Linked DNA regions of Homo sapiens: region 1 is linked to region 2. The links come from fine-mapping of genetic effects on gene expression. Tissue or cell type: whole blood. Region 2 holds a variant in brackets; the other region holds the start of a gene. All regions are shown on one strand. Distances are between the middles of the regions.

The links. PIP is the estimated chance that this variant, and not a neighbour inherited with it, causes the effect. A credible set is the group of variants that fine-mapping cannot tell apart.
Region 1: MGARP starts here. The variant in region 2 is the best candidate, but not a certain one, in a credible set for the expression of MGARP in whole blood (TOPMed, PIP 0.89).

What each region holds. Positions count from the first base shown.
Region 1 is chr4:139,278,593-139,281,501 of GRCh38, forward strand. It overlaps MGARP (mitochondria localized glutamic acid rich protein), which reads right to left and starts at 1,633. Exons shown (of 4, transcript NM_032623.4): 1 at 1,485-1,633. The coding sequence starts at 1,566. RefSeq lists an enhancer at 1,388-1,597.
Region 2 is chr4:138,709,459-138,712,367 of GRCh38, forward strand. No RefSeq gene overlaps it. Among named protein-coding and RNA genes, the nearest start is that of NOCT, 300 kb to the right of the region's middle. The variant C/A (reference allele first, on the strand shown) is at 1,332.

The DNA.
Region 1 (2,909 bases), 570 kb after region 2:
TGTGTGTTTGTGTGTGCGTGCACGCGCGCATGATGTCGGTGGGGAACGCAGACAGATAAAACGAAAGGCCACGGTCAGAGGACTAATCTTTCTCCCCGTTCTCAACAGAACAGTCCCGTTATCTTCCGAAGTTTAAAATAAATGGCTTCTCCCTACTTCATCAGTGTATATATATATTTAAAAGCTCTATATCATTTGGTATAAAGATCTAGAAAAATAAAGGCAATAAAGATCTAGGAAAACGAAGATGTCTTATTTCTGATACTTGAGGGATAACTTCCTTCCACCAGCATTTTACAAGAAAAATAAAGCGAGTTAGTTAGACCTCCGTCCTTCCCTCCCACCACCACCAACAGAGGCCTAATCAACGTGAAAAAAAAATCGGCCCATGGAATTCTCCGCGCACATCTTTCTCTCCTGCTGGAATCCACCCTCTGGGGTAAAATTATCTCGGAAGGCTCAGAAAGTGAGGCTAAGTGAAGAGAGCATTAAGAACCCTTCACGATATTGTCTAAGAGCCGTCCCCCAGTCGTGAGTGGAAGAGAGAGGGGTGACGGATGGGGACTAGGGAAAAGCGGCTGGGGCAGAACCGCCCTGGAGCGCAAGCCTGGTCCCAGAAGAAAAACAATCTTCCTTGCTCACACCTATTAAGCACCTACTATGTTCCCAGCACTATACGAAGCGCTTTCCTATATGTCCGTTTTTATTTAATAAGCCTCCAGTTCACACTGCAACTCCCCCTTTAGTTAATTGCTGAGTATTCTGCTTTTTCTCGCGTATCCTCAGAACCAAAGGTGTCGATATTTGGACTACAGAGCCAAGCAGTTGCAGGACGACGTGCAACCTCAAAGGAAAGTGTCCCGAAGGCCGCTTCCTTTTTGGGGGTTGTGGATCTCAGAGCCAGGCGCTCGCGGGGTTCAGGCTGCTGAGACCCTGCCAAGGGTTAGGTTTATTTACCCCACGAACATTCGCCCAGCGTCCACTGAGCGGGCCCTGCCTCACTGCCTCCCAGCGCTTGCCGGGCCCGCTCGCTGATCGGCGTCCACCTTCCCACCGTTCCTCTGCTTCCTCAGGAGATTGGAGAGCGAATGGTGCCTCTAACAATAAAAGTGGTAAGCTGCGACTTTGTCAGCCAGGCACGTTTTTAAGTGCTTTTAACCATACATTAACTCATTAAAAAGGAAAACCATCATCGCCCTCATTTTATAGATGAGGAAACAGGTTAAGCCATTTGTCCAAGATCAGGATGCGAACCCAGATAATCTGGACTCTGAGGCACCCTGGAAAAGTTCCCTACTTCCAAAGTCTGCAGGAGCTTCGGGACGTCTTCCCGGGAGTCTCCCCCAGTCTCCTCGACCTCCAATCCAGGCTTCTGCTGCTCTGGGTCGGGTTTGGCCAACTGGGTGCCGGCCGGTTCCCTGGCGCGGGCGAAATCTGCACCCGAGGCGCCCGTCCTCCTCTCCGGGCTAGACCTCCTTACTCACCGTCCTTTCCGAGCGGCGCGGGGTTGGGGGGCGCCCTCAGCGGCAGCGCCAGAGTCTTGGAGACCGCCCTGCGGAGATACATCGCGCCCGCTGTCCGCCGCGCAGCAGCCTCGGTACCCAGGCGCAGGCTGCCCTTCCACAGAGAGGCTGAGAGCCTGGCAGCGCCCCGCCCGGAGGAGGCACGTCGACCTTCATCCAGCCCCGCCTCCGCGGCCCCCGGGAGGTGGGGAGACCTTTGTAGTCCTCACCATCCTCCCCTAACCCATCTCCAGCTCTGTTGCTATCCCTGAGGTCTCTAGAGCTGACCGCGGCATCTCAGAAAAGGGATGGGGAACCTACAAGTCGCCGTCGCCTGCCTGGCTCATTCTGTACCACTGAATGTAACTCCTCACAGCAAGCTGGAAATGTTTTGGGAATTGGACGAGATTAAGACAAGGACACAGTTTATCACGCTGGATGTAATCTGAAACCATTTTATCTCCTGCATTCCGTTAGCTTTCCTAGGAGAGGGAAGGATAGCTGGAAGTTTCTTAAAAATGAGAAGAGCGAAGGGGTAGCCTCAGCCTTCCATTAGCGCACTGGGTGATGCTCAGAATCGTAAGAAAATCTGCAGACAATGGTTGAATTTCTAGACAGCTCACTGTTAAAACGACTTTAAAATATCAAAAACACTGTATATTCCTCTATGGGATGTGAAATTAATATTTCCACATCAGCGGCCGGGCACAGTGGCTCACGTTTATAATCCCAGCACTTTGGGAGGCCGAGGCAGGCGGATCACTTGAGGTCAGGAGTTGGAGAGCAGCCTGGGCAACATGGTGAAACCCCGTTTCTACTAAAAATACAAAAAATTAGCCGGGAGTGGTGGCGCGGGCCTGTAATCCCAGCTACTCGGGACGCTAAGGCAGGAGAATCGCTTGAACCCGGGAGGCGGAGGTCGCAGTGAGCCGAGATCATGCCACTACATTCAAGCCTGGGTGACAGAGCAAGACCCTGTCTCAAAAGCAAAACAAAACAAAACAAAAACCCCAAAAACAAAACAAAACAAACAAAACAAAAAAACACATCAACTAAAAATACTAAATTATTAGTTTTCCGTCTCATCGTGGCTACAAGAACTTGTCATGGTTTGAATATGGAAACCAATAATTTATTACGTTTATAACATTGTCTAAATGATTACTCTTTGGAAGACACCATTTCCTACTATAATAATCCCTTATGTGTGTTTGGCACTTGAAAGATTATAAAGCACTTTCACATCTATTATCTCTTTTAATTTTCACTGCAACCCTCTGAGGGAGGTGGCAATTATTCCCTTTAGCAAATGCCACCACCAGGTGGTGGGTGGGAATGTCCAGGGATTTACTGGTGGTCATGAATTAAAAAACAAAAAGGACATGAACATAATACTTCTAGCTTAAA
Region 2 (2,909 bases):
GCTAGCTGCAATGTCCTCCCAACTGGTCTTCCTGCTTCCAACCTAGTCTCTCTTTACTGCAGCCAAGGTGATCCTTCTTAAAAGCAAATCACATTAAAGTCCTCCTTTTAATGTCTTTCTATATTTCCCCCTCTCTCCTGAGATAAATTTCCAAGTCCTTAACAAGATTCACAAGGCCCTTCATTGTCTCTCTCTCTCTCTCTCCAGTCTCATCAATTGAAACTCTCATTGTCTCTGCCAGCATTCTGAACTTCTCAGGTTTCCTTGAGAACATCCTGCTTCCTCTCATCACTAGACCTTTGCCTATGCTCTTCCCTAATTATTTTCCAGTTCCCTTAGGCCAGCTAACTCTTCCCTGTCCTTCACTCGCCATCTTAGATATTATCTCCTCCAGGAATCCGTCTCTGCCTGCCCCAATCCTGACTAGATGTCCCCCTTATCCTCCTGTAGCCCCCGGTACCTTCCCCATCACAGCACTTAACACAACTTAGTAACTGCCTGTTTTCTGCTTGGTATTCTACTTTCTCTGCAAAGAGTAGAGACGCCTGCAAGCCAGACCAAGCAGAGAGAGATTTATTGTAAGGATGCAGAGGGCCTCACAGACACATGAGAAAATGAGCTTCATAGGAGCAGGAACATAAAAGCCATCAGAAATGAAGGCCCTTCTTTCCATCTCCCCCCTCAGAGACCTAAGGTCACAGCATCATTGTGCCTGCCTGCTCATCACTCCATCCTTCCCTCTCTCTCCCTCTCTCTCTCTCTGCCGGATTTCCCTACTTCTGCTTAATCCACAGGCTATCCCAGCCTCCATTACATTACCCAGCTCTCGAGGTCACCTTTTATCTTTTGCCTCTGGTGCTAACAGGTACGACGTCTCAGCTTCCCGATTCCAAGTTCCTGAAGGATGAGTTTGCTTGGTCTCTCTGATCTCGTGGTGCTGCACCACTTGTGTCTTGTTTCCTGGCCAGCCTAAGAATGGCTGCCTTGACTCAGGTCTAATCAGCTTTACACAAGAAAGGTGGGGTTTTGGTACAGAACACAGCTGTGCTCACTGATATGGTTTGGCTGTGTCCCCACCTGAATTTATCTCGAATTGTAATCTGAATTGTAATCCCCACGTGTCAGGGGAGGGACCTGGTGGGATGTGATTGGATCATGGGGGCGGTTTCCTCCATGCTGTTCTTGTTTCTTGTGATAGTGAGTGAGTTCTCATGAGATCTGATGGTTTTATAAGTGGTGGTTTCACTCTCCCCCTCCCTCTCTACCTGCCACCTACCACCATGTAAGATGTGCCTGTTTCCCCTTCCACCATGATTGTAAGTTTCCTGAGG[C/A]CTCGCCAGCTATGTGGAACTGAGTCAATTAAACCTCTTTTCTTTATAAATTACCCATTCTCAGGTAGTTCTTTATAGTAGTGTGAAAACAGACTAATACACACACTTAGCAGAGATTTGGGGTAGAGCCATAAACAATAGGAGCCTCTGAGACACTGGGAGACACTGCAACACTTAATCTCCTAGCGGGTAACCAAGACTTTCATTGTTAACATACTATTGCCTAGCAAAAAGTCAGGCACAGGGAAATGTGTTGAGCAATGGCTGAACCAACATTTATCAGAACTCTCTATTCTAGAAGACCCATTTGGAGATCTTTTTTTCAGTCAGACCAGGCAGGGTAAGCAAGTTCTTGATCCCCACACAACAAGAAGATAGCTGATTTTTTCTTAAAGAGAGTTGCCCAGATAATAAATGTTTTCTGACTTTTCACTTCACTTAGAGTCAAACCTACCACTTAGCTGATAACAGCTCCTAGCTGCTTTAACCAAAACAGCAATAATCTTTTGTAGCTTCAGCCTGCTTGTTTGACCTCTCCTTAAAATAATTGCTGAATTGGGCTTTAAAAGTCTAGAAGGAAATCAGATAAAAAGTATAAACAGGATTAATGCAATATTTTACATCAATGAAATAATAACTGCCTCAAGATCCTGCCCAATTTGGAGTTCACCTCTAGACTCAGCAGATCCATAAGCCACAGAGTCCACAGGAAACCAAGCATAGTTTCTGACTTAGGGCGGTATGAAAGGCTCTATCTTAAGTCAGATCTTTTTAGTACAATCCAGGTTTTCTCTACTTATTGTGATTTGAGATCTCTCTCTCTCTCTTTCCCTCCCTCTCTCTCTCCCCAGTATTTGTCTTTCAGTATTCAAGACCAGCCATCTATTTTATTTCCAAAACTTGTTTGCAACTAAAGAAGAAAGCCTTAATGAATGGATACACTCATTTGTAAATAATAATAATAATAATACTTAGAGGTCTGTTGACCTACAAACGACTAAAAATAGAGTTCACAGGAACTAAAAGCGAGATTACCATGCTCCAGTGTTGGTCAGTTCTCACCAACCAGCCATGCTCCCTTTGTCTTTAAGGCCCTGACATTGAAGACTGAAGAATATCAGATTATTCCTCAGACTAGCATCAGCATCACTCAAGGAACTTGATGAACATGCGTATTTCTGGAGCCTACCTCACTGATTGAAACAGAATCTCCAAGAGTGAGGAAAGGCTGGAGTGCAGTGGTATGATCTCAGCTCACTACAACCTCAACCTCCTGGGCTCAGGTGGTCCTTCCACCTCAGTCTCCCGGGTAGCTGGGACTGCAGGCACATGCCACCATGCCCAGCTAATTTTTGGTAATTTTTGTAGAGACAGGGTTTTGCCATGCTTCCCAGGCTGATCTCAAACTCCTGGGCTCAAGTCATCAGGAAATAAATTTTTAATGAGCACTTGGATGATACTTATCATCTCACAAGTTTGAAAACACTGACCTAAATTATCTCAGTGGGCTCTTCCCAAAGCATGTTTCATTAATTAGGGGTTCTCACCCTGGCTGTACAGTGGAGTAACTTAGGAAGC